Regions from separate parts of the Homo sapiens genome. Here region 1 is linked to region 2. The links come from fine-mapping of genetic effects on gene expression. A gene starts in region 2. The other region holds a variant in brackets. All regions are shown on one strand. Distances are from middle to middle.

Region 1 (16,439 bases), 73 kb before region 2:
GAGAGCCCAAAATGGTTTAAATGCAAAATGAAGAGATTTAGAATGTCAAGTTTTAAGATCAGGACCAGCAGCAAATACAACTCCAAACCCTTGCCCCCAGATCTTGTAGCAGGCAACATTATATGGCCATAGCCAACAGGATGCAGGACCAAAATATATAAGAAGGGCAGAGTGAGAGTGGCCTCTTCATGCTCACTGTTATCTAGTGGGAGTGGCCTCACTCTCCAGACCAGCCTGTGGGAAGACAGTGGATATGGCTTCCTTTCCCTTCATTGTAACTATTGGAAATGTATTCTGTAACCTGGGCTGACTACATAGTTTTCAGGGCCTGGTGCAAAATGAGAATGGAGGACCCCTTGTCCATAAAGCAGGATTAGATGGGAGGCTGAGGTGGGAGGATTGCTGGAGGCCAGGAGTTAGAGGTTGCAGTGGGCTGTGATCGTGCTGCTCCACTCCAGCCTGGGCAACATAATAAGACTCTGTCTCTTAATGCTGCTAAATGTACTCAATATGTACTCAAATATCAAATGTTTCCTTTCCTCTATGCGCACTCTCTCTCGCCCTCTCTCTCTGTCATGGTGTATTTAGTCCTGACTTAGTGTCATACTAAATCCTCACAGGCACTTGGAGTCCCATCCTGTGATGTGGTCCACATGGTCCACTGCCTGTCAAGTTCCTTGTCCCACCAGCCACTAGATCAGTGTGTATGCGGTGCCCTGGCCCCAGGGGAAGTCAATACCCCCTTCCCACGGCCCACTGCCCCCACCCATGGCAGGTGACCAACCCTCAATAAATTGCAACCTCAGTATCTGGATTGGGGTGGATTAGAGGCTCGCACCTACCAAGTGGCCCACAGAGCCCACCATGGTGCTGCCAGCCCAGAGCAGGGACAACTGTGGCTATGCCTGACCAGAGGCTCCAGGTGGCACCCGGACATTTCTGGCACCTATGCCTGGTACAACATGGGTCTCCAACTCTTTCCCCCAGCTCCCTACCCCACCCTACCCACAGCACTCTACCCCCTCCCCACAATGCTACCTGGGCACTGCCCCAGGTAGATGGTGGCAGAGGTCAGTCACAGGGCAGAGAGGAGGCAGCCAGGTAGGGCTGGGGCTCCAATGGGTGGAGGAGAAGGGGTGGCCAAAAACCCATTGGGAGAGGTGGGGAGCAGCAGAAGGTGACCCCAAGGTGGGCCAGGCTCTAAGCTCCCCCCAGCTCTTGCTCCATTGTCCCATCCCATCGGGCTTCACTTACAAAACACAAATGCGAAGAAAAAATTATCAAGAATTTCAGTACAATAACAATTGAGCATTAAACTGTAGACAGGGCTTTTCTGAGCACAAGGCCCTGTGTCATCGCACTGGTTAGACAGCTGTGAAGCTGCCCATGCTGTAGTCTCCAAAAATGTTCCCAAAGAAAGCTTTCCAGGGATGACACTAACCAGGAGAACTTTAAAAGTCTGCACACTCCAAATTCTTACTTTCAGCCCCAAACTCACCCCCTATTAACCTGGCAAGATTTAAGAGAAGAAATCATCCACTATCAAACTCTTAGATGTTTTGAGTACTCTTCACACAGGATTTTCTAGACCCTAATTAACCCATTTTCATAGGCCTTTCAAATGGGGAGCTTTGGGTTTTGATTGCATTTGTTCACAGAAAGTTTTGACAACCCGAAGCTTCCAGTTCATCCCTTGGTTTCTCAGTCCAGCATTGTGGGGCAGGGGTGGCACCAGAACCCTAGAGGCTGCTGCTTTGACTTCTGCCTATATCCACTAAATTTCCTGTCAACCAACTGGGTCTCAGCCAGAGCCCCTTGCAAGTTCTCTAACACCACCTCCTTGTCATCAATTAAAGGCATTTTCAAAGCACTGATGGAATTCTGTGATAAGTAAATTATTAAATAAATAAGCCCAACGTTGTTTACCAACTGGCTGACTCTTCTGTCTGCACTTGGCAGTCCATTGCCCCAGCTTTCAAAGCCAATGAACTTGACAAAAAGAGAATCTGTATCATTTGTGAAATCCAACATCACATTGCATAAAGTGCATTTGATATACTGTTAGGACAGAAATATCATTTCCTGCCTTGTAAGTCATTTGAGTTTAGCAAAATTATACTTATTTTCCTGATATTTGTTTAATTAATATCAATGTGGTAATGAGACGCTTGATACTATTTTGCAAAATTACCACAGGAGTTGTTTCACTAAAACACTCCCCTTGTATACAGGGTGTCTTCCTTCGTTTATATCATGGTTCAGATGGGAAGTGGTCATAAAGCCTCTGGAGGCTGTGGGCACATATGATGTTTTTCTGTCATTGTGTGTGTGACCCAGATGCAGCCACCTGGAAAGCCTGACTCCCAGTCCAGAGCTTTTTGTGACATTACAGAGGTGAGCCATGAAGTCGGGCAGCTCCTTATCATCCACCGCTTCATCCATCTGCCCATCCATCTGTCCATCTGTCCATCCTAGATGCACAGGCAAGAAGGTGAAGATGTTGGCTGACATTTCTTCAGGGTCTAAAACCTAGAAGGAGGAGGCACAACCACCCTTGCTGCACCCTGGAAAGGAGCTGGTCCTGGAACTGACGTTTTCTTCTGCAAGCCCCTCTCCCCCAGTAAAAACCATTTCTGATCATGTTATGTCCCCTTTTCTGGGACATAACTTCCTATATCAAGTCCTCAGAACACTGTATTCCATATTTAATGGCTCGTTCATTAAAATGAGCTTTGTGGTTGGACAGGTTGGGTACATGTTCCTTTCTAGAACTTTGGAGTTTGTCTTGCTTCCTCCTGGTTAGATTCAGGTTGTGTATTCTTTGCTGGAAAACTGCGCTGATAGCGTGCCTTTCCTAAGGTATCACATCTGGAGGTATGTGATGTCCATCTGCTCCTCATGGGGGAAATTAATTGAGATCACCCAAAGTGTTGTCCAATTTCTCCATTATAATGTCACTGGATCCCTCCCCCTTGCATCTAATATACACTCTGTAAGGAGACACTTTGAATTCATGCAAATATCCTGCTTTTCATCAAAATGTCCTAGCTTTACAATTCATTGATGATTCTTGCTCAAGCCAATTTTTACCATGAAGTTTGCAAAATGATGATTTTTCTGGCCGGGCATGGTGGCTCATGCCTGTAATCCCAACACTTTGTGGTGGTGCACGCCTGTAATCCCAGTGACTTGTGAGGCTGAGAGGGTAGGAGGAATCACCTGAGCTCAGGAAGTTGAGGCTGCAGTGAGTCGTGATCATGCCACTGCACTCCACTTTGGGTGACAGAGTGAGACACCCTGCCTCAAACAAACAAACAAAAAAGGATGATTTTTCTGATTCTAACACCCTGTCCACCTTGACCTTCTGGCCCTTGACATTCAACTATAAGTAGAAGAAGCTTTTCCCCTCTGTCCTATTTCTGCACCTATACGTGTCTGTCTGTCTATCTGACCAGTATGAACTCATAAATTGTCCCAGATTTAACCAGCAGTAGCCCCTTCAAGCTGGTTCCTGAATCTTCGTGACAGGCCACCATCATGCTTTTGAGCACTCCTTTACTTTCCGACATAACAGAATACTCCAGGATTATCTTGTACCTACACTATCCCAGCCCTGGACTCAGCTATTTTTCCTAGGAGCTCTGGCTCCTTTAATGGCGAATGGTATTAGATACCAAGATCTCTATGCTATTTGTATTCATTTTATCGGTGCTTCTTGGCCCTTTCACTGGAAAGAGTTAAGAGATATATGCACGTATATATACATATACATGCCTACACATGGACACATATATATAGTGTGTATGTAAACATGCATATAGACATATATGTGCACATTTCAGAAATCATGAGTTTGCACTGATACCTCCAATTTCAGCTTATCTCCACAGGATTATTTCCTGCCTCCCCCATTTCATATTTTTCTGTCCCTTCGTCCATAATGAGAATGCTGGCTCTCAATGACATCAACACGTTTACTCATTTGTTCAGCCCTGTAATGGCTCTAAAATAGTTTCAGCATTATTTCACTCATCCTACAACAGACAGCTCTACAAAATGACTTTGGAATTTGTTGTGATTCTCCCCTCATCTCTCACTCTACCCTGTCCGACACCGAGAGTTTATAGTCAAATATTGTATTCTTAAATTACTTGGATTAGTGCTCTCTTTGCTTTCTTCCTTTCCCTCCTGTATAATTATGATGTTCCTTTGATATACAGTGTAATTATGATGTTCATTTGATGTTCATTGATACACAGTGGTTCGTTTCCATTTGCTTTCATTTTAGTTTTTTTCCTTTCTCATTCTTATGGGTTTAATTTAACTTTTCAAATATGTAGAATATTAGCTTGCTTTCAAAAGCTAAAACTACACCAAAAGCTACATTCAGAGAAGTGTCAATCCCTCCTGTATCCCTTCCACTCACTTCCTGCTTGCAGGATACCAAATGCAAAGTTTCCTAGTTTATCCCTCTTGTGTTTCTTTCTGTAAAGATAAGCAGAAATATGTATGTTTTCTTTCTTACACAAAACTGGCAACCTATATATGCTTTTTCATGTTCTTTTTTTCAATACTAGCTCCCAGAAATCACTCTGTATCAGTTCATAGAGATCTTTTGCATCTTTTATCAGAGCTGCATGGTATTCCATTGTGTACGTGCCACTCTCCTATGCTTGGGTGTTAATACTGTTTCCAATATTTTGCAATTACAAATAAAGCTGCAATAAATAACAGATTAGTAGACTTTTTAAAAAATTCACGTCAAGCTCCTTAGAGAGAGAAAAAGGAGATAAAGACAACTGATAAGACCAGCAGATATAAAAGCCAACTTCCTCAGGCTAGCTTGACCCACCACATTGCACAAACAGACCTTTCCAAGAGGTAAACAAGGTCCTAACTGTGGTCTTGTCTTTCTCATGGTGATGGGGGATGCTTTTTACAGTTTTATAGAACTAGAAGAAGGAACACCTGGGATCTCATTTTTCTCATTCCTGGATGCCTGCCTGCCCAGCATCAGTCAAGTTGCCCCTTATCTTTTCTTGAAGTGAGTACAATGGCACATAGCAAACCCAAAGAAGAGGGCGGTGCAAGGCTGCTCATACATGTGTGAGCAGATTGGACAAGCTTGATTGGCATTTATTATACATTGGGTACACCTAGGAAGTAGGAGAATAAAAGGCACCATACAGTCCTGTTGAGAAAATAAATTCCACTAGGATATCCTTCTTGGGGACTGGAGTAGATTATATTCCTTTTTGCCAAACATTCCAGTGACCCTCCTCATGGGAGGGTTGGACTTCCTTGCCCTGTGGAACTCAGGAGTGGCCGTGTACCTTGCTTTAGTCAATACATGTAGACAGAAATAATGTGTATCATTTTGGAGCAGAAGCTTCAGGATCTGCTCCAGGTTCACCATGTCTCTTATTTTCCTTTGCCGGGAGACCAATAACTTCCTAGACAGAGGCTGTTTCAGAGGCTTCACAAAAGAAGGAAAAGGAATGTGCATGAAAATATGCTGAACATCAGTCAGCAGGAAAATGCAAATTCAAACCACAGTGAGATACCACTTCACACCCACTAGAATGGCTAACATGTAAAAAGACTGACTAGTTAGCAAGGATGTGAAGCAATGGAAACTTTTATATGCTGCTGGTGGGGTTGTAAAATGGTACAACCACTTTGGAGAACAGTTGGTCAATTTCTTTGTCTTATAAAAATAAACATACACCAACCACGTGACCAGCCATTCCACTCTTAGGTATCTACCCAAAAGAAATGAAAACTTATGTCTACAAGACTGGTGGAGGAGTGTTTGTAGCAGTTTTATTCATAGTAGCCCAAACTGAAAACAACCCAAATGTCCATCAACAAGTGAATGGATAAAGAAACTGCGATATATTTGTACTGTGGACTACCCTTCAGCAAGAAAAAGGAATAGACAACTGGTACATACAATAGCATAAATCATTCTCAAAAAAAACCTCGAGTCTAAAAAGCCAAACACTAGAATATATACTACATCATTTCATTTCCACGAAGTTCTAGAACAGGTAAAACTGATCTATAGTGATAGAAATCAGATCAGTGGTGGCCCCAGGCCAGGAGAGGAACTGACTGGAAAGGGGGACTCAGGAACTTTGTGTGATGATGGAAATACTTTATATCTTGATTGGTGTGGTGGTTACACTGGTGTATACAGTTGTCAAAATTCATAAGATCTGTTCATTATATTATGTGTAAAAACAAGAAATGAAAACAAACACTAGAGTCTCTTCCTCCAGTCTGGGTCCCAAAGTGAAGATGATGTACAGCAAAACCAGTGAGGAATAAACCTTTGTCTATGTAAGCCACTGAGATTGTGGGGTCATTTGTGATTGCAGCATAACCTAGCCCATCCTGATTAATACAGGGACTCGTCCCATTGGCACATTCAAGGATCTGAGAAGTTTTTCAGTAAAGAAACCTGCTTGGGCTGGGCGTGGTGGCTCACACCTGTAATCCCAGCACTTTGGGAGGCCGAGGCAGATGAATCACTTGAGGTCAGGAGTTCGAGACCAGCCTGGCCAACATGGTGAAACCTCGTCTCTACCAAAAATACAAAAATTAGCCAGGTGTGGTGGCACACGCCTATAGTCCCAGCTACTTGGGAGGCTGAGGCAGGAGAATTGCTTGAACCCAGGAGGCAGTTTGCCGTGAGCCGAGATCATGCCACTGCACTCCAGCCTGGACAACAAAGCAAGACTCTGTCCTGAAAGAAAAAAAAAAAAGAAACCTGCTTGACATTATATATATATCCGGTATTTCTCAAAGTATTTTGACAATCTAATTATTCTTTATATAGCGCACCTTTAATATATTCTGAAAGTAGCTTCATAAAACACAATCTGTTTAATTTTTAAAGAGATTGGGGAGCACATCCTTTTTTAGAATAATTAAAATATTCCCAAATGTTAGCAGTTTGGGGTAATGATAGCACATTAACATTTATGCCCAAATTATGAGGACCCCCTAGCCCATCGCACCTCACCCCCACAAAAAAGAAAAAACAAAAACAAACAAACAAAAAAAAAAAACAACAACAACCCTCCTCTAATGTCCCTGGGACTTCGCAGGGCAAGTGTCTTATAGGTATTCAAGAAAGGGCTTGCTCACATTCTTCTGAGCTGTTTTGCTGTCAGGGTCCCTAGCTCCTGACAGTTGCTGGGTAGGTACCTGTTTCTTGCTATTCTCTATTAGTGGCCACCCCAAGGCCCAGAGTGCCAGTGCTATGTGGTGGTCTGTGGCAGAGTAGGGATGGGGGGCATGACCCCTCTCGGGCCCAGCATGTCAGAGAGTCTTTGATGAGTGGAGTTCCTCAGCCTTAGGTCCTGACTTCTATCTTTCTAGAGTCTCAGAACCTTCATCAGATCAGACATGGGGTAGACACCAGGCCTAGAATTAATCTCCCCTCTCCCTTCTCTCCAGGTATTTTTCCTCCTCTTTTCACCTTCAAGTGAAAAGCACCTGAAATCAACTCAGGCAAGACCAGGGCTGCAGGAACGCCCAGCTGGGTGGTTCTGATGACAGACTGCCTCCTGGTTCGGAACTCAGCTGGGACACCGTCCTTCATGAGGACTTTTCATGCCTCCTTTTAAGCTCCTCAGTGAATCCAATCTGCAGTAGTGGTGGAAGTTGGGAGCCTCAATTCTGCCGTCATAAGGAATTGAAAAGGCTCTGAAAGTTGGTGATTGTTCCCATGTCCAGCTCAAGGGCACCGAGCCGCTGGGCTGAGGTGGAGACCAATGTCCCCGGGGCAGTAGCCCAGAAGGAAGCCAAGGCCTTTTTGCAATAGTTGAGTATCCAGACCCATCTACAGGGAAATCTTTGAAAATATTCCTGCCACTGAAGTCATGTTGGGCTTCTTAGTTTCAGTCCCACTAAGCCCTTGTGGGAACTTCAGGTGTGTAGTGGTGAGAGAGGGGAGACAAACAGGAGAGGTGATGGAGCGAACAAGGTGAGAATAAATCCCATTCTGGAAATAGCTTGAGATTGAAAATTCAACTGGAAATCATACCTGGGAGCAAATTCAGAAAATGAATGATGAATGAATCCAGTAATTAAATTCAACTAGTTCCTTTTAATATGATTTTCCCCCTGAGAATAATCAGCAGAACTCTAAGAAAACTCTTTGCCAAAGTTATCTCATTTAATTACTGTAATTCTGTGTCACATACAGAGGAAGAGATGGAAGATAGAGGTTTGACTTCCTGGTTTCTGTGTATCTGGTAATATTGTCTGGTTCATGGGCTGGGGCGAGGTGGGGAGCCATTGTTTTATCTAATACAGAGGTAAATTTTGTGGCTGTTTGATTATAATTTCTGATCTGAATTTGAAAGCTCTTCCCTACCTATGTGATTAACTTGAAAGAACTTGGCTGAAGGCATCCGGGTTAATAAAAGTCTTTTTGGTAGGTGTGTTTCTCAAGCAAATAAAAGTTAGCAATTTCCCTGGCAAAGCTTAGCCTTTGTGAGTTATTGATGAAATTTTTCCCTCTTTCTCTCTCTCAAAGGCAGAAGTGGGGTAAATGGAGCATTGTGGATTGGGCTGTAGGAGGGTGGGTTATTGGTTGATTCCACAGGTGCAGGAGTAGTGAGAATTCTTAGTTGAAGCAGCTCCCACCCGCTTGCATTGAATCTTTCCTAAGAGGGGCTGCCCTTCAGCAGAATGTCACGTAGAGTTGCTTCTCACCCCAGATCTCAATTTCCTCATTCTTGAAGATTTCTACAAAAGAAACCTATGCCCTGCTTTTGCTTGCTCTCCACACCCCTGTAAGTGGGTGCTCCAGAAGACACGGAGGCCAGCAAGCCAGGACGCTTTGTTCTGATGGCTCCTAGCAACGGCACCTTCACACAACTCTCATGAGTCACTCTGAGCCCCTGTCTGGGGGCGAGCACGAGCACACTATACTGTCCCGAACGCCTGAGCGAGCCCATCATCTTCTCTTACAATTATTAACTCAGGTGGTC[G/A]TTTTGATAAGAAGTGGAAAAGTAGGGAAAACACTAGAGATGTCGCAAACTGCCTGCAGTGACAATTTTCCTTAAATATAGACGTTTATTTGAAGATATTTACCTAACTCTTCTAACCAAGATAACATCTGATCGCAGATAGCATAGTACCCTTTCAAACTTCTTAGTGTTATACACCATACACTCAGAACAGTGTATCTAACCTCAATCTACAGCTTGCTGAATTTTCAAAACCGAAACACACGCCTGCTGCTAGTAGCCAGATGATGAAACAGGGCTTTACCCACACCCCAGAAGCCCCCATCCCAATTGCTCCTTCCAGTCACAACTCTGACCCCCAAGGGTAGCCAATAGCTTGGTCCCTAAAGGCAGAGGTTCTTTCTTGCCTGTCTTTGGACTACATATAAATAGAATCATCCAGCATGTACTTTTTTCCTGTTTTCTTTCCGTCTGCATTACGTTCATGAGTTTTACCCATCTTGTCTCAGGTAGTTGGGAGACTGTTCATTCTCATTGCTGCATAGTGGTATAAATACACCAGAATTTATTTACTCATCTTCCTGTTGATGGACATTCAGGTAGTTTCCAGTGCAGTCTTGTTATGAGTGGTGCTGCTATAAACATTCAAGTTCATGTCTTTTCACCAACATGAGTGTACGTTTTTGGTGGGTATACGGTCAGGAATTACATGTTCAGCTCTAGGAGCTACTGCCAAACAATTTGTTTGTAGTTGTATCAATTTACACTTCCACCAGCAGTGATGAGAGTACCAGTGGCTCCACACTTTCTCCTAAAATGTACCTAAACAGGTGCCCCACCTGCTGGGGGATGTGGTATATGCTAGTGGCCAAAAGCCCAGACTCTAGAACTAGATGATCTGGGTTCCATTTCTAGCTTTATTATTTAATAAGTGTATGACCCTGAGGACCTTACTTAACTTCTCTGTGCCGCAGTTTTTTCACCTATAAAATGGCAATCATCATCATCTTCTTCATAGGGTTAAGAATTAAATGAACAAATGCATACAGATCATTAAGAATGGTGCCTAGCAGGGTACAGTGGCTCACACCTGTAATCCTAGCACTTTGAGAGGCAGAGGGCAAGCAGATCACTTGAGCCCAGGAATTCAAGACCAGCCTGGGCAACATGGCGAAACCGTGTCTCTACAAAATATTAAAAAATTAGCCAGGCGTGGTTGTGGGCACCTGTAGTCCCATCTACTCAGGAGGCTGAAGTGGGAGGATTGCTTGAGCCCTGGAGGTCAAGGCTGCACTGAGCCATGATCGTGCCACTGCACTGCAGCCTGGGCAACAGAGTGACCCCATCTCAAACAAAAACAAAAAACCGTACTTGGCACATAGAAAGTACTCCATAAATGTTAGATGTTATTTTTATCCAAATGTATTGAAATTAACAACCACCAGTGCAGTAAAGGAGCTGTACATCCTACTGTAAAAGAAATGGAACGTTTCCCACACAAACCGAGGAGGCAATCAGGTGAACGCCACAAGGGGTCTCTATACAAGAGGCGTGACAGCATGCAGTCTCTGACTATGTAAATCAAAGCGAATTCTTGAGAACTTGAATGTGCAAATTAAACCAGAATGTCAGCGCCCTGCAATATTTATGGCGAAGTGTGAACCCTGTATAGAAGCAATATAAATGACAGTCTTTGATTTTATTTATTTATTTATTTATTTGCTAGTGAGGCCAGTGACATATATTAAGTTAACTTACTATATATAGGACCTCAGTGAAGTGAATTCCTTACAAATCCTATAGACTTGTATAGTTTATCCTTTGGCAAACACTGTTTCAGGAATTGACATACATATGGATTTCAGTAAATAAATGTGGATTTCATCAACAGTCAATGCAAGAAAGGGAAGTGGTAGAGAAGAAATGATGATAGGAGAGTCATTGGGTAGGAAGTTCAAAGGCACGCAAAGCTGAGATGCACCCCATCACCAGGTGTAGGTCATTGAGCGGAATTGGTTTTTAATGGTAAACGTCAGCAAATACATTGCTTGTCTCTTTCAGGTTAGTGGGACTCAACCCTGACTGCATAGTAGAATCACCCGGGGAGCTTTCGCAACTGCAGGGGCCCAGCCTCAAATCCAGAAATTCTGATTCAGTTTGCTTGGAAGCAGGGCCCAGCGATTTCTTTTTCTTAAGTTCTCCAGGTGATTTGAGTGTGCAGTCAGAGTTGAAAAATGCTGCTCCTGGCTGGGCCTGGTGGCTCACACCTGTAATCCCAGCACTTTGGGAGGCCGAGGTGGGCAGATCATGAGGTCGGGAGTTTGAGACCAGCCTGACCAACATGGTGAAACCCCCGTCTCTGCTAAAAATACAAAAATTCGCCGGGCGTGGTGGTGCCCACCTGTAATCCCAGCTACTCAGGAGGCTGAGGCAGGGGAATTGCTTGAACCCAGGAGGTGGACAGGTTGCAGTGAGCCGATCATGCCACTGTACTCCAGCCTGGGCAACAGAGTGAGACTCCATCTCAAAAAAAAAAAAAATGCTGCTTCTTCTGAGAGGCAATAGTGACAATGCTGCTGGTGTCTTCTGAGTGGTTATCTCTTCCAGTGGGGCAGCAGAGTGAGATCCTGAGTAGTTTCTATGGCATCTGCCTGCTTTGGTCAACTAAAGCTCCAAACACTGGCTCAACTGGTTTTTATCTGGTGGATTTTCTTTCATACCTGGCACCTCCGAATATTCCAGTCTATTTTAAGCCTTCCTGTGGTTTTTAAAGCATGATACTTTCTGAGCCAAAGACTTACCATTTCAAATCGCATGGACCGTGATTCAATCTGGAACAGAACTAAACAGGACAAGGTGTTGCCCCAATTAGTAATTGGACATTTTCTTATTGATGAAAGAAGATACATGAAAGTGCATTGAACTGTAAAGCCCTTCATAGAAGAGCAAAATTGTTTTTTATGTTGTTGCTGCTACTATGTGTGGTGTAAACTTCAGGAAGGTAGGAGAGGGCCGTGAAATAATCACCATGTTTGTACATGAGCACATGTGAATTGGAATTGCTGGTTCAGCCACTGAGTGGTTATCACTGGGGCCTTGCCTTAGCTGAGCTTATGTTTTATGAAAGGTGGAAGGATCAGTACACTTCAGAAGGAAATTTTGTAGATTACAGGAGCTAATGTAAATGGTGCTTGGCAAGGAATGAGCCATTGGTAAATAGCAATTACCCTTCTGTATCAGTCAGCTAATGCTATGTTGCTGCTGCATAACACACAATCCCCTAAATCTTAGTGGCTTACCAAAATGATGTTTATTTTTCTCACTCATGTGTCTGTGGATTGGCTGTAGCTGCTGTGTTTAATGCTGCCTGCAAGTCAGACTGAGTATATGTGTCTCATTCTGGAGCCAGCAGATCTCTGGGGCATGCTCTACTCATGGTAGATGACAGGGCTGCAAGAAGGCCCTGGCAGAAATGCCTAATGCCTTTTAACAATCCAGCCCAGGGCCAGGTGTGGTGGCTCAGGCCTGTAATCCTAGCACTTTGGGAGGCTGAGGTGGAAGGACCACTTGAGGTCAGGAATTCAAGACCAGCCTGGGCAACATAGTGAGACTCCATCTCTACAAAAACAATTAAAAAAAATATATAAGCCAGACATGGTGGTGCATGCCTGTAGTCCCAGCTACTCCGAAGGCTAAGACAGGAGGATGGCTTGAGCCCAGGAGTTTGAAGCTGCAGTGAGCTATGATCGTGCCACTGCATTCCAGCCTGGGTAACAGAGTAAGACCTTGCCTCCAAACAAACAAACAAATGCAATTTAACCCAGAACTTATTCATTATCATTTCCTCCCACTTTCAGAGCAAGTCTTATGGCCAAGCTTAAAGTCAATGGGACAGAGAAGGAAGCATGCTCTCCCAGTGAAGCCCTGGCACAGTGAAGGGAATAAGTGGAAGAACTGTGAGTATATAATGTCTCCTGCCACATTGCCCTTCCTTTCTCCAGGGTGGCAACAGAGCAGAAAAGAGGGGTAAGTATGGAGGAAGGAAATAGCCGGCTCCCACAGGAGCTCCTCCATCTGCCTCATTTGTGAGAGCTTGTTTGGCCTCATTTGTAGAGGTGCTCTACCACTCACACAGAGGAAGAAAAGCCATTCTCTCTTGTAGCCACCTCCAAGTGTTTGTGATGAGGGACAAATGACTCAGGGGCCATCCAGAACTCTAGAATTCACCAGAAGCCTCCAATCTCGCTTGCATGAATACATCGAAACTGATTTTGAAAGAGAAACAGAAACAATACCTGGTGAAGTCTGGCAAAACAGACTATACTATATACTGATTGTCAAAATAACTGGGTCTTCAACCCCTTCCTTTTAGCCTTTTGACGTGTTTTTAATATGTAGATATCGGCCAGGTGCAGTGGCTCATGCCTGTAATCCCAGCACTTTGGGAGGCCGAGGCGGGCAGATCACGAGGTCAAGAGATCGAGACCATCCTGGCCAACATGGCGAAACCCTGTCTCTACTAAAAATACAAAAATTAGTTGGGCCTGGTGGTGCGCGCCTGTAGTCCCAGCTACTCGGGAAGCTGAGGCAGGAGAATTGCTTCAACTTGGGAGGCGGAGGTTGCAGTGAGCCAAGATCACTCCACTGCACTCCAGCCTGGCAACAGAGTGAGACTCTGTCTCAAAAAATATATATGTAGATGTCATTTATGAGTATTTATTCTAAATGACAATTAGTACTCTGATATATAATGGTGGTAGGCTAAGAACCCTTTATTTGAATCCTAACACTTTATTTGAATTTCAAAACTGGGTGAGTTAGGTGACCCCATCTCTACTATCTAACCAGAGAGTTCTGGCCAAACGCATAATGTGCTTAGTAAAGCATTACCAGACATGTCCTTGCATATTCGCTAATTGCGAGAGGAGTTTGGTGACAAGATCAAAGGTGTTTAGCAAAATACAACTGTCATAATTGAGGATAATTCTGAATGTATTTCAAGATATCAAACCATTTTCAAGTCAACTCCCTGAGGATCTTTGTTGAAGGATGTCAGGCTGGGTTGCATTGTTGCAGATCTTAAGTCGAGCTACAGCATCAGGCTTCTCCAGGAATGGTTTCTGAACTACCAACGTCAGAATCATCTAGGGCTGTTGGTTAAAAATGCAGATTCCCAGGCAAACTTCAGATGTATCAAATTGGAATCTCTGTGTGCAGGACCCAAGAATCTCCATTTCTTTATGCACACCAAGGCTTTTGTATCAAATCTATGTAGACAGAGGCCCCACACATCTTTGATTCCAAGTATATTGGTTGTGGAAAAGGTGAGGTTTTTATAATGCCAGATTAATCAGTCTCACCAATAAACACAGCCAAAGGATTTTTCCCATTATTAGTAGTATTTAACTTTTTTAAAAAAATTAATTTTGTTAACATGTCCAACTAGGGTGCTGCTGTAACAAGACTTTTGTGCTTTTTTAAAAAAAAACACTACTTGAACATTAGAAACCATATTTTTTCATTCAGACCTCAACTTTGATATTAAAATAATCATTTTGGCTGGGCACGGTGGCTCACACCTGTAATCCCAGCACTTTGGGAAGCTGAGGCCGGTGGATCACTTGAGGTCAGGAGTTCAAGACCAGCCTGGCCAACATAGTGAAACCCTGTCTCTACTAAAAATACAAAAAATTAGCTAGGCGTGGTGGCACATGCCTGTAATCCCAGTTACTCGGGAGGCTGAGGCAGGAGAATCGCTTGAACCCAGGAGGTTATAGTCCCAACTACTTGGGAAGCTGAGGCAGGAGAATTGCTTGAACCCAGGAGGTGGAGGTTGCAGTGAGCCGAGATCGTGCCACTGCACTCTAGCCTGGGTGACAGAACAAGACTCCATCTCTAAATAAATAAATAAATAAATAAACAAACAAACAATTTTCCTCCCATTTTCTCAAACACCAATGGCCTACAAAACATATATAAACATTGAATGAAAGAAAAGCAAGTTGAGACACAATTATTGTGAGGAATCGGGGAGGGTTTTATTCATGTATTTAATTTAGTACATTCTTTTTCTGACAGGAAAAAATTTTTCCTGCCTTTTTAAGGTATTTTAGGTGCATGAACTCGCAGTAATGAAAGTGGTGTAACCATCTAAGTTGGAAATATCTTTCCTTTTCCACTTAGTAAGTGCATTTTAATATTTTTTATCCATATGCATGGAATAATAAAAGGCATTAACTGCTTCAATAAATAAATTAAATGGAAGGATGGTTCTGAGAATTGAGAGAAATAGGGAAAACAATAAGAACAAGAGGACAGACTCCCCTCCCTTTTCCACCTTCTTTCACCTCCTGTTTATAACATTTGAGGTTCAAAGCCTTTATCTTAATGACTTGCCACTTTCAACTGTGTGGAAAATGAATTTGAATCATTTAGAAGATTCTAAGAGTTCCTTACCTTAATCACTGAACACAAGATGCAAAAAGGTGTGGAAACATCTGTTGCCCAGATTAGGAATGTTAACCAGGATGTTGCAAAAAAAAAAAAAATCTATGCCGTTATCGGGCCTTTAATCCAATTAGCAAATACAAGTCATTCTAAAAGACTCTGGCAACCGTTGCTCAGAGAGGGAGAAAACCTACAAAAGATATGCAAAAAGGAGAATTTGAGCATCATGAAATTTAAGAACTAGCAGAACTACAGTAGGAAATTATAAGAAGCATGAATTTAAGGCTTTTGTGTGTTTGGGCTCAGTTTTTTCATTCTATTTTATAAGTAAAGATTTTTTTTCGAATGGCAAAAAAAAAAAAAAATATGTTTTCTCCAAAGTGATTTCAAGGGAAAAGATTTCCCTATAAAAACAGCAAGATCTTCCCTGACTTCCCTTCCCTGATACTGATCTTCCCTGTATACGTGGGATTTTTTGGTGTGGGACATTCAAGTTTTCAAAGGATTTCTCATCACTTACATTTCACTCAAGCCCTCATGGGTTGGGAGGATGGGTAGAAACAATTACATCTGCCATCCTCTGATGATGGGCAGGTACAGCTACCTTATCACAGGGCTGAAGTGTCAACAGTTGTGATACGCTCATCAAGCATTTGTTTCTATTTTGAGCTTTTCTAACCTGTTTGCCTCAACATATTCTCCAGCATTTTTCAGAGAGTTGTTGGGGGCAGGAGAGCCCTGGGATTTAAGCTATAACATTTCTTGATTCATAAACAGATTTGTGGAGTCTTGATAAGTAAGCAACAATGAGGAAGGGGCCCCAGGTGGAGGAGGGCCTCAGGTGAGAAAGAACAATGAATAATTTTCCTGAGACATGGCTAATCACAAACAACCTGTGGGTACAACCTTGTTCCACATGTAGCCCCCTCCAGCAAGACCCTATAAAACTTCCCTCCAGCCCCTGCCTCTTTGCAGATAGCCCCTTCTCTGCTGTGCTGCCCATTACAG
Region 2 (16,439 bases):
GCAGCAGGGCTTGCTCTCAAGGCCCTTATATTCTAGTTGAAGATGAAAACTGTGACTTAAATCCAACATTCAAGGCCATGAGTCATCCGTGCTTAATGAATGCTGCAGATGGTGAGGGCTTTGGGAATTCAGTGGAGGGAAGGACATAGGATGCTGTCTGGCATCCCGGGATTGGCAGATCATTGTAGAATCAATAGATGAGAGAGCAGAGGAGGATTTGAAGAAGGGAAAGGGCAGTGGAGTATCTTTCCCATCAGAGTGGGGTCCATGGACCAGCAGCATCAGCATTGCTCAATAGAAATGCAGAATCGCAGGCCCCACCTCAGAGCTACTGAAACAGAATCTGCATCTTAACAAGACTCCTAGGTGGCTCATGTGCACATTGAGATTTGACGCGTGCTAATCCAGTGGACACCAGTGGGTGGCTGTCTCAGTCCATTGGGGCCGCTACAACACATTGCCTTAGACTGGGTACTTATATCAACAACAAGAACTCATTGCTCACAGTTCTGGAGGCTGGGAAATTCAAAATCAAGGTGTCAGCAGATTCCGTGTGTAGGGAGGGCCTGCTGGTTCATAGATGGCACCTTCTAGCTGTGTCCTCACATGGCTAGTTCTCTTGGGTCTCTTCTTTAAGGGCACTAATCCCATTCATGAGGGCTCTGGCCTCATGACCTAATCACTTCTAAAAGGCCCCACTCCCTAATACTATCACATTGATGATTAGGTTTCAACATAAAAAATTTTTATGGGACACAAACATTCAGACCATAACAGTGGTCTACCCTGAACCCATTCCTCCCTGCATCCCACCTCCATGCAGCCCATGTGACTCAGGGTCCACTGATCCCATCCCCAGCTGCAGAATTAGTCTCTAAGGGTAGTTCCCAGACTAACAACATCAGCATCACTAGGGAATTTGTTAGAAATGAGGCCAGGCGAGGTGGCTCACGCCTGTAATCTCAGCACCTTGGGAGGCTGAGGCGGGCGGATCACCTGAGGTCAGGAGTTCAAGACCAGCCTGGCCAACGTGGTGAAACCCCATCTCTACTAAAAATACAAAATTAGCCAGGCCTGGTGGCGCATGCCTGTAATCCCGGCTTCTCAGGAGGCTGAGGCAGGAGAATTGCTTGAAGCTGGGAGGCAGAGGTTGCAGTAAGCCCAGATGGCGCAATTGCACTCCAGCCTGGGTGACAAAGGCGAAACTCCGTCTCAAAAAAAAAAAAAAGAAAAGAAAGAAATGTACAATCAGGTATGTAAATTCCCAAACATCACCCAAGACTACTGAATTAGAAACTCTGAGGCTGGGGCCGGCCCAGCAATCTGTATTTTAACAAGCCTTCCTGGTGATTCTGATGCAGCCTGACATTGGAGAACCACCGGTCTTCACGGATCATGGTAATCACATTCCCCTTGATAATTATTGGTTCCTGAACCCAGGCTTAAGCCAATCCATTTCTGGCCTTCCCCTGGCATCTGTAATTGGTCCAGAGGTGGTCATGTGACCTACTTTGGCCCAATCAGACTGAAAGGAAAGTTATTTACTCCACAGTTGGAGAGGTGTTTTCTTTTTTCCCCCTCCTGCCCCTTCTCTTATCCCTCTTGATGCACACAGCCAAGGTATTGTGTTGCCTTCTTTGCCACTGACTGCCAGCATATGACCATGAGGAAAACCAGGGCGAGGGCAGAGCTGAAAGGACCACAGCAAAAAGGAGCCAGAATCTTTGCACTATGCCTCTGGCCTTCCTGTTCCCTGAACAATATATTTCCTTATGATTTAAACCAGTGGATTTGTGGTTTCTGATCCTTATAGCCAAAAATGTTGTAACGACAGATGAAACTAAGGAAGTATGAAGCCAATGGGCATAACAAAAATATTTTAATATGATGACGGATGTAATTAAGTTAACAGGCATTTTTCCCCCAAATTCCAAAACTCTAGATCCAGGTAGCATAACTGTTACAACTTGAGAAAAGCAACTTAGTACAAATAAAATGGAGCATTACTTTATGCAGTGGGTCCTTGATTGGAGAATTGGTTAAAAACATACAAATGGGGGCTGGGCACGGTGGCTCATGCCTGTAATTCCGACGCTTTGGGTGGCCGAGGAAGGCGGATCACTTGAGGTCAGGAGTTTGAGACCAGCCTGGGCAGCATGGTGAAACCCCATCTCTACTAAAAATACAAAAATTAGCCAGGCGTAGTGGCATGCGCCTGTCGTCCCAGCTACTCGAGAGGCTGAGACAGGAGAATCACTTGAACCCAGAAGGCAGAGGTTGCAGTGAGCCAAGATCACGCCATTGCACTCCAACCTGGGCAAAAGAATGAGACTCCATCAAAAAAAAAAAAAAGAAAGAAAGAGAGAGAAGGAAAGAAAGAAAGAAAGAAGAAAGAAAGAAAAGAAAGAAAGAGAAAGAAAGAAAGGAGAAAGAAAGAGGAAAGAGAAAAAGAAAGAAGGCTAAAAGAAGAAAAAAAAAGGAAGGGGACTTAAAATGAGGCATATTCTTAGGTGAAATGAAAAAAACAATAGGGTAATATACAAATGAGCCTGGAGCATATTATGGTGCCAGAAAGTAAGAAAGTGCTCAAGAAAGAATGGAGACACAGGAGCCAGCCTGAAAGAGCTTGCAATGACTGAAGCTGGGACACTGACAATAAAGTCAATAATAACAACATTGGATTCTAACCCAAAGACTAAACTCCTTGTCCATGAATTCATATTGACATAAATAAATAATTGAATAAATAAATGGGAGAGAATTCTTCCCTATAGAAGGATTCCAATGAATTCACATAGAAGGAATGAGGGAAATAGAAAATCGCCTTTAGAACACCACAGGAATAATTGTTGCATGCATGATCTACCGATGGATGCTAAAATTAGTGGGAGAAGGTTGGAGGAGAAACAGGATATTTGCATAGTCTCGAAGTATCTTCCTCTAGGGGAAAACGGATAGAGAAGGCAAACTAGGGTGCTATAGGGATGTGTCTGTCCAGAATTTTCTCCTGAAATGTGCCCTGTGGTTTCAGAGACAGGAAAAGCAAGAGATTTGGTTTAAAATCGCACGGCCAGGAGTTCATGGACTCCTCCAAGAAACAAAAAGGGCCATTGCTGTTCAAATTTGGACTGAGCTAGATGTGACCTGGCCCTGAGAGTTGTCTCTTCTCACTACTAAAGAGCCACATGTGCTTGCCCTCCTCCCTCAACTCCCTACTCCAACCCCCAAGCCCTGGGCTCACTCACTGCCAGGCAGGGTGGTGGTGAGTTTCACAAACTAATCCCAGCGTGCAGATTGACTGTGCTGCCTTTAGTTTCCTCCGGATTTTCGGGTTATTTGTGTTGGCACAGGGCCACCAGCTCTTCCTAACTTGGAACACATTCTCAAAAAGGGCTGGTCCCACCTTCCTCATCTTGGTTGAGGCCAAGGTCTGGTTTCATTTTTCATTAAACTGCCATTTGTAACTTTCATTGAAGAGAATGACAACATGTCCAACTGTCTTCATTCAGTGTTTTCCCAAGAGAGGGCCTTTTTGCCTCCCACGAGACAGTGTGTGATTTATTTATCTCATCCGTTGTGCAATAGGTTCACCACCATTGCAACTAACACAATGTTCCAGAAAAAAAATGCTGTATCACACAGTGACTTCACTCAAGTTGGCAGTGATTGGTTTCTCACCTAGATCCACCAAAGCCTATACCATGGAGGTAGAATTGCATCACCAGAGACTTCTCTGGTTTGATTGTGAGGGGGGACTATAGGGCTGGGACTGCATCTTGCCCATCTTCATCTGCCCCGGGTCTGGCATGTAGTAGGTGTGGTAGTCATCGGTGCTGTTCACCAAGTATTTCCAACTCTTCACTTCGCAGGCCCTTCTAGGGCTGCATTTCCTGGCCCTCTGTGTCTGGGTGCAACTATTTGCACAGTTCCAGCTGATGAGTTGGGTGCAGAAGCGTTGTACACCACTTCTAGGCTACAGCATTTAAATACTTGTGGTCCAGAGCTCTCTTTTCCCTCTAGCTCGGCAACCAGCAATGTTTGAGAAGGTGGCTACTCAGTCATCCTGGATCCCTGATTGACTGCAATAAGTAAACACCCCCTTCTAACCTATGATGCACATGTAGTGTGAGTAAAAAAATTAATGTTTTTGGCCAAGCGCGGTGGCTCATGCCTGTAATCCCTGCACTTTGGGAGGTCGAGGTAGGCAGATCACTTGAGGTCAGGAGTTTGAGACCAGACTGGCCAACAGGGTGAAACCCGGTCTCTACTAAAAATACAAAAATTAGCCAGGTGTGGTGGTACACACCTGTAATCCCAGCTACTCGGGAGGCTGAGGCAGGAGAATTGTTGAACCCAGAGCCAGAAGTTACAGAGTACGTCACTGCACTCCAGCCTGGGTGACAGAGTGAGACTCCATCTCAAACAAAACAAAACAAAAACAAACAAACAAAACACCTTTGTTTATACTAACCACTGAGATTTTGAGGGTTGTTTGTTACTGCAGAATAACCTAGGCTATCCTCACTGATACCATATGCATAAAATACATGTTTGTTGAATGAATGAATGAATGACTTAAGCCAGAAGAGACTGCTGAGCAGTGTTGCTCTAGAATTCCTTTCTATAAAGAAGAGATTCAGACATGGTAATCTGATTACACGTGTGTGGGAAGTGAGGACCATGTTGGTGAGGGGACTTTTCTTGTTTTGTTTGCATAGTACACTATTTTTATTACATGTCTTTTATTTGGGCTATGAGAGTGCTGATGGGGATTATGGGGGGCCTAAAGCCCCCCAAACCAAACCTTGGCATTATCACTGAAGTTTCAATTGACCTTGCCACCTCCTATGTCTTTTACAAGTGGGGAAACTGAGACCCAGACTGTCTAAGTGATGATACCCATTAGTTAGTGGCAACACTGGTAAACACCAAGCCCCTCGTTTCCTGATTGTCTACCTGGTGCTTTTGCTATGACACCATTCCACCTTTCACACCCAGGTGTTAAGAGAGCAGGGGCTTGAGAGTTGTGCTCTGACTTATTCCAGTCCTGGCTCTGCCACTTACTAGCTGTGGACCTTAGGAAAAGCACTTAACCTATCTGTGCCTTGGTTTCCTCAGCTGTACAGTCCTCTGTGGGTTGCCACGAGGATTTTGTGAAATCAAGTATAAAGTATGTAAAGATCTAGCAGTATTAGTCGATTGTTACTGTTATCCTAAACCCTCATCCCACAGTCTTTTTTTTTTTTTTTTTTTTTTTGAGTCAGTGTCTCACTCTGTCACCCAGGCTGGAGTACAGTGGTGCAATCCCGGCTCACTGCAGCCTTGACCTCCTGGGTTCAAGCGATCCTCCCACTTCAGCCTTCTGAGTAGCTGAGACTACAGGCAACGCCACCATGCCCAGCTAATTTTTGTACTTTTCTGGGTATAGATGAGGTTTCACCATGTTGGCCAGGCTGGTCTCGAACTCCTGGGCTCAAGCAATCCTCTTGCCTCAGCCTCCCAAAGTGCTGGGATTACAGGCATGAGCCACCACGCCCAGCCCAGCTCACCGTCTTGATTTGCACCTGAGCCCCATGTTCTCTTCATGCTCTGTTTCCCTTGGGAAAGAATGAATCTGTTTTAGACCATCATGTGCTCTATTTGTAGACGATTTGGCCACAGGTCAATTACATTTGAAGTTCTAAGGAGAGCCGTGCCCTGAGCACTGGTGAGCTGTCCTCCTCTGCCACCTCCCTTTGCCAAGAACCTTCATTAAGGGACCTACCAGTGGGAAGGGGGCAAGGTGACAAGAACTTTTGCCTTCTCTATTCGGTCTCTGCCATATTTGCTGCCTGACTGATGCCTGCTGATCAAGCTCCATCACTGGTTCAAAGACCCTGTGGGACTACAGCCAAAGCCACCCACTCTTCAGTTGCTGGGACATCAGCCCACAGGCTTTGGATAAATATTCACCTGCAAATCCTGAGCAGCCATAGCCTTCCTTCATATCTCCAGATAGTACCCGTGTAGAAGGCATGTGACTAGGGCTCCCTCTCTCAGAAAAGGCAGAAAAACCTGTGGCTGGAGGGCCGGGGTTCCCTCCTTAATCCCAACCTCTTTCCTCTTCCATAGGCCCTGATGTCAGAGTTATGTGAATCTGAGAGTGTGTGTCAAGAAGAATGAAACTTTGGCTGAAAGTGCAGCAAAATATGAATTTTTAAGAACTGTCTTATTTATGTTTTTTAGACATATTTCTTTTCTTTTTCTTTCTTTTCTTTTTTTTTTTTAGAGACAGGATCTCACTCTGTCACCCAGGCTGGAGTACAGGGTCATGATCATAGCTCATGGTAGCCTCCAACTTCTGGGCTCAAGCCATCCTCCCACCTCAGCCTCCTCAGTAGCTGGGATTACAGGGGCAAGCCACTGTGTCTGGCTACCAGTTTTTGATAAAGCTAAACTTACCATATGACATAGCACTCTTACTTCTAGGTATTTACCTAAGTGAAATAGAGGTTTATATTCACACAAAAAGCTGTATGTGAATATTTATATTGCCTTTATTCACAATAATCAATAGCTGGGGCTACAGGCATGCACCGCCATGCCTGGCTGATTTTTTTTTATTTTTTATTTTTACAGAAATGGAGTCTCACTATGTTGCTCAGGCTGGTCTTGAACTCCTGGGCTCAAGCAATCCCCTCACCCCAGCCTCCCAAAGAGCCTTAAAGTCCTTTTTTAAACAGCAAGTTTGTTTAAAGGAAAAGCATACTTACTCTGGTATCACGCTTAACTTTAGAAATTCAAGCAACTGTTAATATGAGATAGACATATATTAACTTGTTATTGACGTGAGACATACATACAGAAAAGTGCTCATAGATCCGTTTAAACTGTACCCAGATCAAGAAGCCAGACATTACCTGTAAGCCCTTCTTATTCTCCAGTGACCGCTATCCTAACAGCATAGGTTAGTTTTGCCTGTTTTATCCTTTACAGAAACAAAATCATATAGTGTCTGTGTTTTTGGGCCTGACTTCTTCACTCAACATTGTTTCAGAGGTTCATCTATATTAAGCATAGCAGTGGTTCATGCAGTCTCATTGCTGTCTGGGATTCCGCTTTGTGACTATACCATCACAATGTCTGCGATCCATTCTGTTGGTGGGCATCTGGGTCATTTCCAATCTGGGCTATTGCAAATATACTGGTATGATATTCTAGTTCATATCCTTTGGTAAACATACACACTGATTGAGGTTGTGTGTACATCCAGAAGGGGAATTGCTGGTCAGAGGGTAGTTGTACTCTCAGCTTTAATAGATTCTGCCAAAGAGTTTTCCAAAATGCTTGTAAAAATTTACACTCCCACTAGCGGTGTATGAAAATTCTTTAGGTATGAGGTCTATGTAAAGCAAAAATAAAGAAGTTAATATGCAAAAGTTATATGTAAGTTAAAAATACGTGTTAAGTTCATTCAAACGGAACCAATTTAACCCGTTGGAGTAATACCGGGTGTGTTTATTTAATACACCATTTTCCCCTTCATCAAAACTTTTAATTTATGTAACCTGGATGAGCTTCCTGACTCTACTCTCCCTTAATCCAATCAGTTAAAAGTCTCTCTGAAAAGACTGTCCATTCATTTATTCAGTTAGAATGTTGTGAGTGTTAATAAACTGGTGTTTGCAAAACAAATTCAACCCCTCCTGCAAAGCAGAATATACATCTCGCCCATCATGTGTCTAAAATGGCAGAGTCAGCCAGGATATGCCTTAAAGATCTGCACTTGATAACCATCGCGTCTCCAGGGCTGTGAATGCAATTCAGAATCCAGAATTTTGTTCTAGTTGTAAAGGAAAAATGGTATATTCTCCCGCAGGTTTAACGAAAGAGAACGATGCCTTTAAAACGACAAAGCATTTTGCAAACACAGGTGTTATTCGACTATAAAGGCGGCGGGGGAGGGGGGCAGTAAAATGAGCCGGAAAGGGAATTCAGAGCGCTTATTTTTTCCCTGGTCTCTACAACTAATTCGTATTGTAGAACTGAGCCTCCATTTTCCCATCTGTAAAATAGGGTACTTTGACAAATTGCTTAGGGGATCTGTAAGTCCTATCCAGATCTAGTTTTTATTCTATGACCATGCAGGAGGAGAGATGCTGAGACAGAAAGGTAGAGGGGACCAGGGACAACTCACTTTATATACCCCCTCCACCTCGACCCCCAGCAGGCAGAGCGCCCGAGATCCCGGTTTCTGGGAACCCGGTGTATTTCCAGTCCTTCACCAGGAAAACCATCGAACTGAATCCTTTACTGGGACATTTCTCGTTTACTGCTCTCTCCAAATTCCCCTCTCAAGTGGTCTGACATCTGATCTCCGGATTCAGGAATATCTTGGTAGAAGTGCGCCCTCGGGGCTCCCACCCATTACAGCGTGCGACACTGAAACGGGCATATGGGTACCGGGGCGAGCCCTAAAGGTGAGCCGCTGAGTCTGGAGGTTGGGGTCCGTTGGGGTCCCCAAGGAGGAGCTCGCTGGGCTGGACGCCGGGCATCTGAGGGTCCCGCAGTGCCTGGAGCCCAGGAGCGCTGCGGGGCCCCCGGCTGCGGTGGGGTGGGCGGCCGAGCTCGCCGCCCCCGCTTCTCCCCGGCCCCTGCCCCTGCCCCGAGCTCCCAGCCCGGCTTCGGCCGGCCGCGCTGCCCGCTCCCCCTCCTCCCTCCGCGCCCCGCCCGCTCCCCACCTCCGCGCCCAGCCTCGCCGCCGCCGAGCGCCCGACGCGCCACGCCGCGCTGGGCAGCTGGAGAGCTGGCGGCGGAGCGGGCCGGGAGCGGCGGGGGCGGCGCCGAGGCCGCGGGCGGGGGGAGGAGGGCCGCAGCCCCGGAGAGGGGAAAAGGCGGGCCGGACGGCGCCAGCAGCCAGCCCCGAGGACGCGAGCGGCAGGTAAGCGCTCGGCGCCAGGACGGGTCTGGCCCCTTGGGGTCCTGAGACCCAGACTCGCACAGCCGGCCACGGGCGCTGGAGGCTCGGGCGCAGCGTCTAGCCCCGGAGGGCGGCGGGCCAGCGGGCCGGCGGGACGAACGCGCCTTCCGCCCGGCTGCTGTTCCTAGCCGGGGCCCGGGAACATCCTGAAAGGCGGAGGCGTAGCTCCCAGCCCCGGGGCTAGTTCCCCGACTGGGGGAGCCCGCGCGCCGTGGGAAAGGAGGCTCCAAGGGGAGACGCGCGTCTCCAAAACCTTCGGACGGAGCCGTACTTTCCCCAACCCGCGGGAAACTGAGCCACGAGCCTGACTCGCGCGGGTGGTGTGCTAGACGCCAACTCCCGGGAGCCCGGCTCCGCGCGCCTGGTCGGGCTGCGGCGGTGCTGGCGGAGCGCGAACGCGCCCGGGCCCCGGACGGCTTGGGGCGGCACCACTCGGCGCGGCCCCGAACAGGTGGCCCCGGGCACCGAGGGACGGAGCGGCGGCCCGGAGCCAGGGGGTGAGCACGCCGGGGAAGGAGGGGGCTCGTGGTCTCGGAGTGAGCGCATTTCGGCAGGGACTCGAGTTTCGAGGCTCCGAAACCCGATAAAAAGTGAGGGGGAAGAAGAGAGCTGACCTCCCGAGAGCCAGACGAAGCAGGGGACAGGTTTTCCGTGGCTGCTTCGACAGTGACAGTCTGTACTGTGCACGATAATCCCCCAGGGATCCCGTTAAAATGAGATTCTGATCCCGCAGGTCTGGGGTGGGGGCCGAGCGTCTGCATTTCTAAGAAGCTCCCAGTGGCTGCTGATGCTGTTCCATGGACCACACTTTATCCGGCAGGCCCTACGGAAGTACTTTTTGTCCAGCAGGCTGAAAACCTTAGGAAAAGTGGGAGATTGGGAGACGAGGTCCTAAGACTTTACAGTATGTATAGCTTTAATACCTCTTTGCCACCTCTACCCCCAAACGCACGCAAAAACACTTGCTACTATAAAGGCCAAGGGAAACTTTCCCTTCGCCCCCTGAAGGTTCGCTTGAAAAATTAACTGACAAAGACAGATTGATTGGAGAAAAGGCATGCAAATGTATTAATGTGTCCACGGGGAGAGAACAATAGAGTGATTACCCCCAGCCCCCCAATGGGGTACAGAAGCATGTAGATTATCTTGAGGTTACAGAAAGAAAGGGGTCTCAACGCATGGCCCCAAACAGGTTATGGTGGTAAAAGAGGTTGTGAGAGGGGGAGAAGAGGAGGCTTGGCCAGCAAAAATGGTCTGGAGATGTCAATGAAACCTCACAGGTGGCAGCCCTCAGAGAGAATAAACAGTAAATGTTTCTTTCAGACCTTTAAAGGGGTCAGATCCTCAGTTAATTTCTCTTAGATCTGGACAAGGGAGGACCTCGATAAAGCCTGGCTACATCCGTGCAGATTCTCTACAAATGCAAATCTTCCGCACCAAGGACAGCTTTGCATTAGCTCTACTGGCTGGCTTTCTAAATACGTCAATATTTAGAAATATGTCAACTATTTCAAAATATGTCAAAGAAATATATTTTGGGGTAAAATGATTTGATTTCCTTCACTACTCATTTAATAGCGAAATATTTTACTTTTCTTACCAACTTTCTAGCCAAATACATGATCTGATAGCAGGGCTGGCTTCATGGACATGCATCCTGCACTTGGTTTAATGCTGAAATTCTTAATTTTTGAACAAGGGGCCTCTCCTTTTCATTTTGCACTGGGTCCCACAAATTATGTAGCTGATCCTAATAGTCACCATACGTGGAAAGAGAACCCATTTTTTGATCAGGGTTTGAGATGGTGGGTGATGGAGAGTAGAGGTTTATTAAGGGAAGACTAGCTAGATGTTGCAGTTATCTCCAATCTTTCTCAACTCCTCTTTGGCTATCTGAAGAGATAAGTCTAAGAGCATACCCAGGCATGCATGGTGTGACAAAATTTATTACTTTATTAATATCAACAGTTAACAGTTTATTAGGAGCTTAATTATTGATAGACAATACAATTAAGTTTGATATTGAAATAATTTTGTAAGTTTATTGACAAGTTGTGTGTTATTTTCAAAGGATTGGGGAGTCTCTATTTAGCATCTCATAAAATTTTGCTTAGTTAAGATCTAAGATGAGCTGGACATTGCTTGGTTTGGCAGCTTTCACAGCTCAAATGCAAAGCTGGAAAACAAAAAGTGGCCAAATTTTGTAGCTTTTCAGGAGTATTCTTTTACAGGGCCTCAGCGTGATGCCAGCCCGGATCGGATTCCCTTCTGCTTTTATCACTCCCACATCTCTGCAAGGTGACTTTCATTAAAAGGGGGATAGAGCATATTTAGCTACTGAAAAACACTGAAGAAAGGCAGGGCCAGCATCAGTATTTTGTCTGTGAAGAAATCTTGCCCAAAAAACACAGATTCCAGGTGTGTGTATTTTTCTAGAAAAAAGAAATGTTGGAAATACAGAAAAGAAAAAGATTGTACTCTAACTATGGATATGATTTTGTTCAGCAGAGGGAGAAAAAGTCAGATAAGTGGCATTTCATTGGCGGGTTTGGCAGGGAAAGGAAAGCTGCTGTGTTTTTGGTACCATGAACAGCCTTCCAGAAATGGCAAAGTGAGTTTGCTCAGGTGCAAGGAAGAGCCAGCAAAGAAGCTGATTTTCCATGGCTGATGTGATCATTGTGGGGACTCAGAGCAGGACATCACGACATATGTTCTTGGTGCTTTGACGGCTCAGATGAAACTGAAAAACACATTTTTCCACTTTTCTGCCTGAGCGTGCCAAGTCGCTTTCAAATACACGATCCAAACTGGGAAGAGTGCTATTAAATTAACAAAAGGAGGGAGAGGGAGGTGTTTCTGTGATGTCCATGATTCAAAAGATAGAAAGGAGGGATTCTGACTTTAGTTAAAACCTGGGAGCTAGTTTTTATGCTTCACTGAGAAAGGTTTTCCTGACCACAAGATAGGAAGAAAAAAGTTCTTTTAAAATGTTTATGGTTTCAAAAATGTGTAGGTATTTAATCCGCATGGAATTTATTTTGGGATTGTGGTGTGAGGTGGTGGGTGATGGAACTTAAACGGGCTAACATTTGGGGAAAGCTATCATAAAATAAATTCCCGCAATCAAATAAATTGTGGTAAACACTGTCCCATTTTACAAATCGATTTAATGGATTCTTCAGTCTACTCCATGTTTTTCAAATTGAAGTGTAACTTATTACAGTAAAATTCACTCTTTTCAGTGTACAGTTCTAGAAGTTTTGACAAATGTATATAGTCATGTAACCACCACCGTATCAGGATGTAGAAGAATTCTACCACTCCAAGGAATTCCCTGTTGACTCTTTGTAGTCAGCCTCCCCCAACTCTCAGCCCCTGGCAACCACTGATTTGTTTGCTGTCCCTATAATTTTGTTCTTTTCAGAATGTCCTGTAAAAGAACTTATGTATTCTGTAGGCTTCTGAGCCTGGCTTCTTTCACCTAGCATAATGCATTTGAGGTTTATCTATGTTGCACGGATCAATACTTCATTCCTTACTGTTGCTGAGCAGTATCCCAAAGTTTGTTTATCCACTCACCAACTATTGATGATTATGAATAAAGCCAATATAAATATTCACATATGGCTTTTTGGATGAATGTAAACTTTTATTTCACTCAGGTAAACACGTAGAAGATGGCTATGTTGTATGTGAGCTTTATCAAAAACTGATAACCGGGCACAGTGGCTCGTGCCTGGATTCCCAGCTACTCAGGAGGCTAAGGTGGGAGGATCGCTTGAGGCCAGGGGTTCAAGAACAGCCTGGGCAACATAGCAACATTCCCGTCCCTACAAAAAAAATTAAAAAATTATCTGGGCATGGTAGCATGCACCTGTAGTCCTTGCTACTCAGGAGGCTGAGGCAGACGGATCTCTTCAGCCGGGGATTTTGAGGCTGCAGTGAGCTATGATTGGGCCACTGCACTCCAGCCTAGGCAATAAGAGTGAAACTCTGTCTCAAAAAAGAAAAACAAAAACAAAAAGAAATTGTATCCTTTTTTCCCACTTCATTTTCTATGGTAGTGAGTAGGAAGGCTATTTAATTGTTTTTCTGTACATTTATCTTACATTCAAGCCATTTTACTGAACTTTTCTTAGTTCTAATAGTTTTTCAGTTGATTTTCTTGGATTTTCAAAGTAGACAGTCAAATTGTCTGCAAATGGCAATAATATAGGGAATTTTCCCTCCAATATTTTTACCTCATTTTATTTTCTTGCTTTAGTGGCTAGGCTTCCCTGTAGGATAATGTTGAGTAGTAGTTGCTACTATTTTACCATTAACTATTGTGCTTGCCATAGGGTTCTGGTGGCTACCTTAATTATCCTCAGGATGTTTCTTTTCCATTGTTAGCTTGCTAAAAGTCTAAAAGTTTAATTTTAAAATTTCTTGTTCTGCTTGGAATTCTTTTTTTTTTTTTCCCATTGAAAGCCTAAGAGGTTTAGGATCAGTTAGTTTGCTTCTTGACTTTGGAAGTTCATATTTTGATCTCACTGGAGGAGAAGTTAGTGTAGCATTAAGTCAATTCATTTTATTTTATTTTATTTAGATAGAGTCCTGCTCTGTCAACTAGGCTGGAGAGCAGTGGTAGTAATCTCGGCTCACTGCAACCTCCGCCTCCTGGGTTCAGGTGATTCTCCTGCCTCAGCCTCCTGAGTAGCTGGGACTATGGCGGCGCACCACCACACCTGGCTAATTTTTGTATTTTTAGTAGAGACGGGGTTTTGCCATATTGGCCAGGCTGGTCTCGAACTCCTGACCTCAAGTGATCTACCCGGCTCGGCCTCCCAAAGTGCTGAGATTACAGGCATGAGCCACTGCGCCTGGTAATTCATTTTATTTAGATGATGAAGAACCTACCTTTGGAGGTTTTTTTAATAATGTTCTTATTTGGGGGAATGCTGGGTGTACTGAGGAAGAAAGAGAATCAAGAGACAGTTTATAACCTACTCATGTATAAACAAGGTAGCTTTTTCTAGTGTTCAAACTTTTTTTGCCCACCATTCACAATAAGTACATTTTATATTTCTTTTTTTCTTTCTTTTTTTTAATTTTTTAATTTTTTTTTTTGAGACAGAGTCTCACTCTGTTGCCCAGGCTGGAGTGCAGTGGCGCAATCTCAGCTCACTGCAGCCTCTGCCTCCCAGGTTCAAGCAGTTCTCTGCCTCAGCCTCCCGAGTAGCTGAGATTGCAGGTGCCCGCCACCACACCCGACTAATTTTTTTTTTGTATTTTTAGTAGAGACGAGGTTTCACCATCTTGGCCAGGTTGGTCTTGAACTCCTGACCTCATGATCCACCCGCCTCGGTCTCCCAAAGTGTTGGGATTACGGGCGTGAGCCATCACGCCTGGCCACATTTTATATTTCAGCTCAGTCCAAACATACTTGTATATAATGGAAACAAACTCTCACAAAGTCTTTGTCTTTCTCCTGTGTGCAATGTATTGATATTTTCAATTATCTTTCATCTGTTCTATTTCATTTTAAACTGATGATCATGATTTTCCAAATTGATTTGACTACCCTTTCATTTGATTTTTTGACCCACAGTTTGAAAAACATTGTTTTGTAAAACTGCTCATTTAGTTTCTAAGTCCCCAAACTGCTGGATTATGTCCAGAACCGATTCATTTTATATCAGATCCTGCTATGATGCAAAGTAAGTTCATTTATTATGCTCTGAGATCAGTGTAACTACCTATTTCTCTCTTGAATTACTGTGTAGCCTCTAAACCAGTCTTTCAGTGTCTACTTTTGACCCCACAGAATAGCCAATACATGCAGTCTTATAAGTCCATGACTCAAACTCCTCTAATGACCTCTTCCCACACTTTTTTTTTTTTTTTTTTTTTTTTTGAGACGGAATCTCTGTTGCTGAGGCTGGACTGCAGTGGCGCGATCTTGGCTCACTGTAACCTCTGTCTCATGGGTTCAAGAAATTCTCCTGCCTCAGCCTCCCTAGTAGCTGGGACTACAGTTTCACACCTCCATGCCTGGCTAATTTTTATATTTTTAGTAGAGTCGGGGTTTTACCATATTGATCAGGCTTTTCTCGAGCTCTTGACCTCAGTTGATCCACCCACCTCGGCCTCCTATAGTGCTGGGATTACAGGCATGAGCCACTGCGCCCGGACTTTTTTTTTCTCTTGAGACAGGATCTCGTTCTTTTGCCCAGACTGGAGTGCAGTGTCATGATCATGGCTCACTGCAGCCTCAACCTTCGGTGCTTAAGCGATCCTCCCACCTCAACCTCCTGAGCAGCTGGAGGCACTACAGGCTTGCCCCACCATGCCTGGCTAATTTTTAAAAAGTTTTTGTAGTGACGGGGTCTCCCTGTGTTGCCCAGGCTGGTCTCGAACTCCTGGATTCAAGCAGGCTTCCTGCCTCAGTCTCCCAAAGTGCTGAGACTACAAGCATGAGCCACTGCACCCGGCCTGCACTTTTTTTTTTCTTAGACGAGATGGGGTCTCAGTCTGTAGCCCAGGCTGGAGTGCAGTGGTGTGATCATAGCTCACTGCAGCCGCAAACTCCTGGGCTCATGCAACCACACCCAGCTAATTTTTGTATTTTTAGTAGGGATAGGGTTTCACCGTGTTGGCCAGTCTGTTGAACTCCTAGCCTCAAGTGATCCTCCTGCCTCGGCCTCCCAAAGTGCTGGGATTATAGGCGGGAGCCACCGCGCCGCCTCCTACCACACTTACAATCAATCCCTAGGGCCTCACTGGTACCTCCTTTACTCCCTATTCTCAACTTCTCCAAACACAGCCTCCTCCGTGCTTATGTTCCTCACCCAAGCCAAGCGTTTGCTGTGCTACCTGCCCAGAACACCATTTCACCAGATAGTTTCTTTGTTTCATCTGAGTCTTCTCTAACCCTCATTCTAAAACCGTACTCCCCACTTACCACAGGAAGGGTCCATTCCCTTATCCCACTTTTGTTTTCTTTATATCACTGTTACCTGCAATTATGTTATTTAGTTATTTGTTTACTGATGCTGCGTCTTCTTTTCCTTCCTGGAATATAAGTTCCAGGAAGGCAGGGACTTTGTGTAGTTTGCTCATCATTGTGTTGTCAGGACTTAGAACAGTGGGACGTAGTAGGTGCTTTATCCACGTGTCAAATGACCGAATGAATGAGCCTAGAATATAGATAAAATCTGACACTTGTCCTAAGAGAAGTATAATGTGCCCTGCCTTTCTGTTCCAATGTTAGTGTGGAAATTTCTTTAGGTTAAGCGTGGAGTATTTTAATGTAAGCAGTTCATTAACCAATACACACTCACCTGGTATCCACTATATTTCTGACACTCTCGTAATAATAATGATAGCTAATATTTACTGAGCAGTTACTACCCTTATTGCTTTACATCTATTAACTCATTTAATCCTCCCAACCTCTTGAAGCAGGTACAATTCTCATCATTTTACAGATGAGGAAACT

Which allele goes with the higher level. Positions count from the first base shown, and alleles are read on the strand shown. Sizes are in standard deviations (SD) of each study's normalised expression.
For the expression in pancreatic islets of the gene that starts at base 8,894 in region 2, G is the low allele of the variant in region 1 and A is the other (large effect, 0.75 SD a copy in PISA).

Evidence for each region. PIP is the estimated chance that this variant, and not a neighbour inherited with it, causes the effect.
Region 1: its variant is the best candidate, but not a certain one, in a credible set for the expression of ADGRG2 in pancreatic islets (PISA, PIP 0.83).

What each region holds. Positions count from the first base shown.
Region 1 is chrX:19,187,866-19,204,304 of GRCh38, reverse strand. No RefSeq gene overlaps it. Among named protein-coding and RNA genes, the nearest start is that of ADGRG2, 74 kb to the right of the region's middle. RefSeq lists an enhancer at 9,495-9,594. The variant G/A (reference allele first, on the strand shown) is at 9,006.
Region 2 is chrX:19,114,923-19,131,361 of GRCh38, reverse strand. It overlaps ADGRG2 (adhesion G protein-coupled receptor G2), which reads left to right and starts at 8,894. Exons shown (of 29, transcript NM_001079858.3): 1 at 8,894-8,920.